Homo sapiens: one gene and its partners. The gene in region 2 interacts genetically with the main gene of each other region. Each region holds a gene or a part of one and is shown on either strand. Other genes may lie near its edges.

Region 1 (3,658 bases), on a different chromosome or scaffold from region 2:
AAGTCCTTCTTAAATGGCAAGTTCTCATCATCAGCAGAGCACAGCCAACTATTCTGAAGAAGCAGATACATCAGACAGGGTATGTATGCATATGTGTGTGGGTGAGAGTGTATAAGAAGGAGGAAAGAGGGAGAAAAAGAGACCACATGTGAGAGCACAGTTAAGTTGGAAAAGCCTAGACCATTACAAAAACTATTTGTTCCAATTAAAAATCATTGATTAAATCATCCTACTAGGATATTGATTGTAATGCTAAACAAACAAAAAGTCACACAGTTGAACAGTGAAGGCAAGTATCTTAGAAAGAGTCAAATATACTTGTAGCATGAAGAAGAATAAGACTGTTGCAATACCTCTATCAAATACTTTTCTCCATTCCAAAAAAAACCCTGACATTAAAAAAACAATAATAAAGTAGGTCACAAAAAGATTGGAAGTACCACCTTTCTTCAGATATGATTTCTCAGTATAGCCGGCTACAAGTTTTCATCAAATGCAAGCATGGTGACACAATCAAGGAAACATTCCCATTTTGGAATCTTTTTGGAAGCTTCAGAAAACATTAACACTTTCAAAATGGTAAAGTTTCTTTACCAAAAAACTTCTCCTGAAGAAACCTCAGTATTCTGTAGGCAGACAGTACACCTTACTGCCAGACAACACATCTGATATTGGGGCACTGGTAAAGACAGAAGCTCTCCATGTCATGGTCACCCACTGCTCTCTTCATCAGTATGCGCTAGGGTGCAAGACTGTCATCAATCCTGAAAGAAATCTTATCTCTTGTTGTGAAAGTATTCTACTGTTTCAAGTGCCAACCCTTGAATAATTCCCTGTGTAAGATGATTTGTCATGAAAAATCCACTATTGTGAAAGCTGCCAGATTCATGAAAGCCAAGACTTTCAATCAAGAGCTTCTCGAGAGGTTTTGTCAAGAAATGGGAGCACTATGAAGTTCTTTGCTATATATAAGTTCCCTGCTTTCAGAAGACAAATTCTACAGCCTGATACTGCTGTTTACAGGATAACATACACTCTTTTTAAACAGTTTAACTCTTCAACCTTGAAAGTAAAATGTGGAGTCATAATCTTTTCTTTCCTAACACAGCATTAATGATACAGATCTTGCCAAAAATGATCTCAGTAACTTGAAGGCAAAGAAAATGATGAAACATGAATTTATCTGAAGAGCCTTGGAGAATTCTTATTTCTTGACACGTCTACTTTCATCAGGCAATAGAATCTACAGATTCCATTTACTCTTCTTTCTTTTGTAAAATAGCATTTTCAGCACTTTTTACCAAAGTCAACACTGATTGGATATCAAAGATCATATAAAAGTTGCAAAGTCAAAGTCAAAGAGCATAGTTTCAACTTGTTATTTTAAAAGTTAAATAGCAGTCTTTTCATTAAAATTTAGTATTGAACAGAACTAAAGCTTAATTTTGGTTAATTTGTACCACTTAGATTTATTCATTGCTCTCATGTAGTAGCCACTGGTTTTTGCATAAAAAAGTGACATAGTTTTCATGAAGGTTCTTTTACATTCTGTCTAAAAGAATATATTTCAATGTAATAAAAACTGCAAAATTTTATGTACACTATGCACATTTTTTGAGGGGAGAACATTTATACCTTCCATCAGACTTTAAAAGGAATGTAACACAATTTAAGACCCCCTGGCTTAAATCTAGTGTTCTGCGCCTCCACATTACAAAATTTTTCTATTTTATTACAAAAAATTTTTTACCTTTTTTTCCACTACCAAAATATATGCTGCTCATCAACTCTGTTTTAAATTTCTACCATCGCTTTTGCTACTGCATTTTTTTTTTTTTTTGAGATGGAGTCTCCCTCTATCACCAGGCTGGAGTGCAGTGGCACAGTCTCGGCTCACTGCAACCTCCACCTCCCGGGTTCAAGCGATTCTCCTGCCTCAGCATCCTGAGTAGCTGGGATTACAGGCACGCGCCACCACACCCAGCTAATTTTTGTATTTTTAGTAGAGATGAGGTTTCACCATGTTGGTTGGCCAGGATGGTCTCGATCTCTTGACCTTGTGATCCGCCCGCCTCGGCCTCCCAAAGTACTGGGATTACAGGCGTGAGCCGCTGTGCCCAGCCTGCATTTTTAATCAGTAAAAGCAATTGTTTCCCTGCAGATGATAATGGGATAAATCAAAGTAAAAATCTTTAGATCCTCAGCTCTATAATTCATGCCAGTGCTATCATTCCAAGGTGCAAACAATATGCAGAAATGTAAGGCAATCTACCATAATCTTCAACATTCACCAAAATTATGCACTAATGTAAGATTCAATTTTGTAAACTATCAACAATAAACAGTATTTCGGCATCCTTATATATAATGCAAAAAAAGTCACAAAGGATAGGAAACAAGATATAAGAGGGGGTAAAGGAACAAGGAATCTATGCAATTACACAGCTTTAAATGATTAATACGATCATTCTATTTCTGTTTTACAGCTGAATTAAGAAGAAATTAGATTAACATGAAGGAGAACTCTCTAAATGAGTTTTTCTATCTATCTGGAGGGGCTTAGGCTTTGTCCTTCTTAGAGATGGAAAAATGTACAAAATCTCTTTGCATTAAATTTTAACATGTTTTGCCATACTTACCACCCAAAGAAATATATCAACAGCAAAATTAAATCACTGTAAAAGTTCTCCCAAGAGTTTTCTTTTTTCTTTCAGATGTACTATAAGAATTAAATTTGTCACTGATTTTTCAATATAGTCCTTAGTTTTCTGATCAAAGAATCGAGAATCTTCTATTAATCTAACTACATTTATGAATATTCTTATAAAAGAATAATTTTTATGGATTATAAAAGTTCACACTTTACTAGGTAATGGTATTTTATCCAAAGGCATTCTATGCTCAAACAAGCTTCAGAAATATAAAGCTTATTTTTGATTAATATGCTTTTTAAAAATGTTATTTTAGAAGAATTTTGTGAGACCAAATCTGCAATACAGTTAATGGGTAACATGTGCTAGTATGATATGAAAATGGTAGCGTGAACAGAAAAATGAAATCAATCAGTCATTTCTCATATAGAAATTGAGGCAGCAACTGATTTAAAAATTTAGAAGAAATAAGGATTAGCAACTATCTTTAAAACCTGTTTTCCAGGGACTGAGGGTGGGGAGGGAGGAACACAAGATGAACAAGATCTGAAGCTCTACTGGACAGCATAGTGACTATAGTTAATAATAACATTGTATAATTGAAAATTGTAGCTTGTAGATCTTAAATGCTTTCACCCTGGGGGGAGAATAATAATTATGTGAGGTGATGAATATGTTAAGTAGTTTGACTGTAGTAATCATTTCACAATGTATATACACATACATCAAAACATCATATTATACATTGTATTTATATATAATTTTTACTTGTCAATTACACCTCAATAAAACTGAAGGAAAAAAAGAAACCCAAAATCTGTTTTCCAATAAATTCTCAGATCCAGGAAGAGGAAAGGAAAAACATCAAAAAATAACTTACCTTTTTGTCTCTGGTCCTTACTTCCCCATAGAAATCTAGGGCCTCTTGTGCCTTTAAAAATTTGCCCCGATGTAATAAATATGCACATATCATTACACCAGTTCGTCCCTTTCCAGCTTTACAGTGA
Region 2 (3,658 bases):
ACTACGGGCATCCACCATCACGCCTGGCTAACTCTTGTATTTCTCGTAGAGACAGGGTTTCACCCTGTTGCCCAGACTGGTCTTGAACTGCTGAGCTCAAGCGATCTACCCACCTTGACCTCCCAAAGTGCTGGGATTACAGGTGTGAGTCACCATGCCCAGCCTTCCTTCTCCATTTTACAGAAAATGTAACAGACTCAGAGAGGTTATTTCTTGGGCAATGGTCACCTACCTGGCAAATGGTAGATAAGACTCAAACCCAGGCCTAACAAACTTGAAAGCTGATGTTCTTTCTGCTGCTCAGTGCCACCTCTGCAGGCCTCCATGTACCAAGCACCACACTGGGCAGTGTGCCCAAGGCCCAGGCTGTCCCTGGTCACTGGTCAAAGTCTAACCAGTAGGCAGACACAAGCCCCTGGCATATCATGGAAGTTGCTGTGGTCAGCATCGTCCACTGAGAAAAGGCTTTGATAGATCCTGACTGCACTGGGTGGAGACCCCAGGAAGCCCACCACACAAAGCTGCCACCAAACCCTCTGCACCAGACTGCTCCCTTCCCTCTAGGGAGTTGATGCTGAGGGATCCAGGGTGCAGTTTAGGGAAGCCCAGGGCCCAGCCTCTCTGGAGGGCTCACCCGCTTTCTGCTGTTGGGTTAGTTTCTGGGGCTGCTCTCGGAGGTCATCTAAGGTTCGCAGTCCTTCCCGGTACCACCGGTCAGCAGTCTTCACACCGACCCCGAAGATCTGGGTGAAGAGCTGTGGGGAAGGAGCGTAGCCCGGTTGGGCAGAGCTCTCATGGCTAGACTCGGATGATCACCCGCTCCGGGACGGTGTGGCCCATGGAGCACCATGCACCAGGCAGGCGCCGTCCCCACTCGCAACCTGCCGTAGACCACAGGGCAAGGATTCAAACCTGGAGCCTGACTACCCAGCCTGCCGTCTCTGGGAACAAACCCACGCACACCCCTCTCCTCTCCTCTATGAAAGGGACTTACACAGCTCTAGCCTGTGATTCCAACATAATCAAAACAGTCACCCTAACACATCAGCACGAGGGGCTCCTAAGTCACTGGAAAAACCATGCCTCTCCCACCTAACAGAAGGTGGAACAAATTTCTGTGGTTCTCCTCCTTAGCCAACAGCAAAAAACAATGAGGAGTTAACAATCAAAAGGGTGGATTTAGGAGCAGAGTTGGCAGGGCTGGCTGGGGTGCTCACATATCTTCCCACAGAGGGTGGGCCCCAGCCCAAGCAAGTCACCTGCTTCAGGTCAGCCACTAGAGTCCCTCCCTAGGAATTCTGGATCTGAGACTGAGGGCAGGCCCACACAGTGGCAGAAGCTGTAGCCTGTGGCAGCCGAGCACCTTTTGTGGCCACATTTCCAACCGATGGAAGAAGCTGGTGCGTCGCAAGAGAGGGCGAAGCCACCGTGCAGAGGGGCAGAGGGGAGGAGGAGTGGCCTGGTGATACCCAGGTCGCTGAGCCCAGTTGTCCTGCAGACCGGCCACAGCCCTCCCCATCCTGGGCTCTGCTGGCCCTCCTTTCCTTTATTTTGTGAACCAACGGTGTGGGGTGGGTCACTGTCACTTGCAACCCAAAGAATCCTGACTAAAAATGATGAGATTAACCCAATTATATTGTTAATAAACTTCTCATTACTAATGTAATTTTCTGCCAGCCTAGATGCCTTCAGGGCTGGGGCTGAGGCTGACAGTGAAAGTACTCACTAACCTCACACCACTTCAAGGGGATTTCATCATCTTCAGGCCCCTCACTCCCACACTCACCACGGTGGCCCCACTCATCTGGTCCCCTGTCCCTGCCAGTGCCCCTTGCCCCCTTCCCTGCATATTTGAGCCCATTTGCCCTGCACACACTGCTCAAGTCTCTCCTCTTCGAAGCCCTCCCTGTCAATCCTGACAACATTCTGTGTGACCTCCCAAGGCCCCATCCACCCAGGAAGCCACACTTCACTGACAGTTATCCATGTGGCCACCGCTGTGACACCTCCAGCCACAAAGCCAGTTGGCAGAAGGGTGTCAAAGCAGGCACACCCGAGGCATCCAAAAGAACTCAGACGGCATTTCCCTATCAGACCAGGAGTGAGCAGAAACAGAGGGAAGGTGGCCATGGAAACAGGCAGGCTGACAACACTGAGAAAATAACACATAAGGTCCTGCAGAAGGCGGGCAAGGGCAAGCCCAGCATGCTCAGTGGCAGCACCCAAGGGTACATTTGGTTCACAGTGCTCTGTTTAAGATGCCACAGCATGTAATCTACTTGAGAATATTCCATCAAAAACAGTCAAGGCAGAGCGAAGTGGCTCATGCCTATAATCCCAGCATTTTGGGGACCAAGGCAGGAGAATCATTTGAGCATAGGGGTTTGAGACCAGCTTAGGCAACATTACCAAGACCCCATCTTTACGAGAAAGATTTAAAAATTAACCTGGTGTGGTGGCACATGCCTGTAGTCCCAGCTACTCCAGAGACTGAGGTGGGAGGATGGTTTGAGCCCAGGAAGTCAAGGCTGCCGTGAGCTGTGATCGCACCACTGTACTCCAGCCTGGGCGACAGAGCGAGACCCTGTCTCAAAAACAAAATAAAACAAAAAGCCCCAAAAGCCAGATGGTGCTGAGTGATCTAGAAAATTCTGTCCTCAAAACAAGCTTCTTCCTTGCCTGTCTCCACTTGGCTGCCTTGTGCATATCAGGTATCAGCTTAGCTGCCACTTCCTCGGCAAGACCTTCTCTGACCCCTGGGCTGGGTCAGCTGCCCCTGTTTGCCTCCCCGTGCATGGTGTGGACTGTGTTGTCATTCCCAGGGCAGGACATTCCTGGGGTAGGTCCGAGCCCTGCCCTGCGCACCTTCATGGTCTGGTACCTCTCTGAGCGCCGAACTCTCTCCACCTCCTCACACACTCCATGCTCCAGCAGCTCCTGGGGGAGGGAACAAAGCAGAACTCTAAGCCTGAGGGCGTGGGAAGAAAGAGAAGGGCGGGGAGTTAGGGTCAGGGCTGGGGGCCCAAGGACTGAGGCAGTCCCCTCCAACACCCGGCAGAGACAACTTTGTGAGGTCAGGGTCCAGTAGGACCTGGAAATGGAGACTGTGCCCAGGGAGGTGACCAAAGTTGCTGCCACACAGCTGGGAGGTCAGGGCTCCAGCCTCAAAGCTCCTTCGGGCCTGGAGTTACAGCAGCTGAGATGCCAGGTAACGTGGATCATCTCTCAGTCAAATAAGTCCCAAGATACATAAACAATTGCTTTTCAGAACATGTGAACTCAATACTACTTCATTTAAAAGCATCTTCTGTCACTGTGTATTCTTGCAATGAAAGTGCACTAAAGGACAACTAAACACACTGGGGCACTGAAAAGAGATGCTCACACTCAGGGTGCTCTCTTTCATTCCACTGTGGAGGGCAGTTTGGGACTAATGACAATGACAACAGTGTCACCCCTAGCCCTGCCAGGCCCCTCACAGCGCCATTCACTGGGTCCTCTAGGCCACCCAGGAGTAAATGGCTAGTGTGCACAGGAGGAATCTGAGCGCAGAGGGTGGCTTGTTGAGGCCTTGGAGCAGTGTCAGCACCCACGACTGTCTGTCCTCACCCACCCCCACAGCACCCTCTGCTGTCTCACCAGGCCCCAAGGCCTCCCC
Region 3 (2,350 bases), on a different chromosome or scaffold from region 2:
TCACACTTTTTCTTAAAGGAATGAAAGAAGTCTATCACCTCAAGGAAAACTGACAGCCTTTGTTGCCAATGGCAGAATATAAAACGTTAAAATTTTGTCAAAAATTAAAAAATGAATATTTTTTTTTTGAGACAGAGTCTCACTCTTTCACCTAGGCTGCAGTGCAGTGGCACAATCTCCGTTCACTGCAACCTCTGCCTCCTGGGTTCAAGCGATTCTCCTGCCTCAGTCTCCCAAGCAGCTGGGATTACAGGTGCGCCCACCACACCCGGATAATTTTTGTATTTTTAGTACAGACGGGGTTTCACCATGTTGGCCAGGCTGGTCTTGAACTCGTGACCTCAGGTGATCCGCCCGCCTTGCCTCCCAAAGTGCTGGGATTACAGGCGTGAGCCACTGCATCTGGCCAAAAAAAGGAATTTTGGAAAACTTATCTGCAGTCATTAGCTTGACAGGTGCTTAGACTTTTCTGATGAGATCAGTTGTGGTATTAATGTGCTTTTGATATTGTATAATAAAGCATCTCAACATGTGGGTATCTACATATCTCAGTGAACCAGTATTTCTGAATGGTCAATGCAAGATAGATGCAAGAATATAAGATACATTCCAAGTGCAAAATAGACCAATGGATTTTACTGTCAAGATACAAAATGCTCATTGATACGGTTTCAGATTCCACATTGCAATTTTATATTCAGAAACAGCCACTTGTGGGTTTTAGTGTAGTGGCAAAAAAACCTATCCACACTTATCTGAAAAGACTATTAAAAACGTATCTGTGTGAAGCCAGGTTTTCTTCGTATATTTTAACAGATGTAAGAGTGAATATAGAATTTGATAAGAATCCAGTTGTCTTGTATTAAGCCAAATAAAGCAAATTTTCAAAAATATAAACCATGCCATTCTTCTCCAAACTTTTCCAGAACAAAAAATATTTTATGTTAAAAAAAAATTTACATTAATGTAATGTGATTACTTAGTGAATAAATATCTTAAGTTTCTCAGTCTTAATTTCTAATACAGAAAAGAGCAGATCACACAAGCAAAAGTGGTCTTCAATAATTTCTAAGAGTGTAAAAGGGTCTTTAAAACAAAACAAAAAAAAATGGAGAACCATTGTGTTAGGTAACATTCATTCTTAAAATCCAAGTACCTTACTTCTTAGCAATTATTTTTAAAAAGTGATTTTTCTGTACAGTAACAAAAGTAGGATTTAACACTGAATTTTCTTCAAGGAGCTGTTTTCTCAAAAGATTAGAAAATCATGGTTTTCCTTATCTTTGTCCGTAGGTGTGAAAGTTCTCTAAAGCCTAAGTACTCAAGAATTAGTCTGCTCTTTTACAAGCCTGGTAAAACCCAGAAGTCAAAAAGGAATTGAATGATATGTGACTATTTAACTTAAAACCACTGAATTGTAAAGGAAACCATAGACAGAAGACTCCAGAGGAAAGAAGTTTGCAATATAAGGGGAGCTAATTTTATCTACAAAGAGCTCTTTAATCAAAGAAAAACACAAACCGGAAGTTAATAAAAAAAGAAAAACTGTAAGTGGCCAATAATCAAATATGTTCACCATACACACAACAAATTTAAAACAATGAAATATTTCTTTTCTGATAAAGATTAGAGTTTTAAAACATTGATAGTGAACCTGGAGGAAGCAGACATCTTCATCCACTGTAGACGGATTTAACAATTTACACTATTTTGAAGGGCCACTTAGCAATATCTCTTTCCTGTAACACAGGATATTGTGGTCTTCATTCTTCATCAATATGCATAAATCTACCTCATTTTCCTCAATGGCTGAATGGTAATTATTAGCACGGATGCACCACATTTTATAATTTTAAAACTTAATCACACAAGCCCTTGAACTCAGCAATCCTTCTCAAAGTTTCCCTCCAGATGTACTCACAAACTTACAACAAGATCATTTCAAGAATACTAATCATAGAAATGTTTGTAGTTTCTAAAAGCCAGAACAATCTGAATGCAAATTAGTAAAATAACTACATGACCTCTTTGGCTAAATAAAAGGGTAAAAGATCCAGCTCAGAAATCCGTAAGGCCCTCCCTGATCTGATCCCACACCTCACCTGTATCCTCCTTTACCCTGCCTGTATTTTTCCTAGAACCACTTTAGTCTCTTTTCCTACCTCACGATCTTTGCACCACTTTGACCTACAATGCTGTTTTTTCTGGCTCACTCACAGTGAGATGACTTGTCCAGCATCTGACTTTCCCTTCAAATTATGGGCTCCCATAGGCAGGGCCCATCTTGTTAAACAGTGTGTCCAGGACCTAAGGATGCCTGACACACAGTAGCTTCTCCTGAAATGGTTGA

What was found.
Region 1: changes in POLM (region 2) and PTEN impair growth when combined (synthetic growth defect), as found in Homo sapiens cells (one large-scale study listed by BioGRID).
Region 3: changes in POLM (region 2) and PTTG1 impair growth when combined (synthetic growth defect), as found in Homo sapiens cells (one large-scale study listed by BioGRID).

Annotation. Positions count from the first base shown.
Region 1 is NC_000010.11:87,933,125-87,936,782, reverse strand, and holds part of PTEN (phosphatidylinositol 3,4,5-trisphosphate 3-phosphatase and dual-specificity protein phosphatase PTEN), read right to left. Parts: coding exon 3,532-3,658; intron 1-3,531. UniProt on the Homo sapiens protein: Dual-specificity protein phosphatase, dephosphorylating tyrosine-, serine- and threonine-phosphorylated proteins.
Region 2 is NC_000007.14:44,075,875-44,079,532, forward strand, and holds part of POLM (DNA-directed DNA/RNA polymerase mu), read right to left. Parts: intron 2,938-3,658; coding exon 2,866-2,937; intron 756-2,865; coding exon 635-755; intron 1-634. UniProt on the Homo sapiens protein: Gap-filling polymerase involved in repair of DNA double-strand breaks by non-homologous end joining (NHEJ). Participates in immunoglobulin (Ig) light chain gene rearrangement in V(D)J recombination.
Region 3 is NC_000005.10:160,424,820-160,427,169, reverse strand, and holds part of PTTG1 (securin), read right to left. Parts: intron 1-2,350. UniProt on the Homo sapiens protein: Regulatory protein, which plays a central role in chromosome stability, in the p53/TP53 pathway, and DNA repair. Probably acts by blocking the action of key proteins.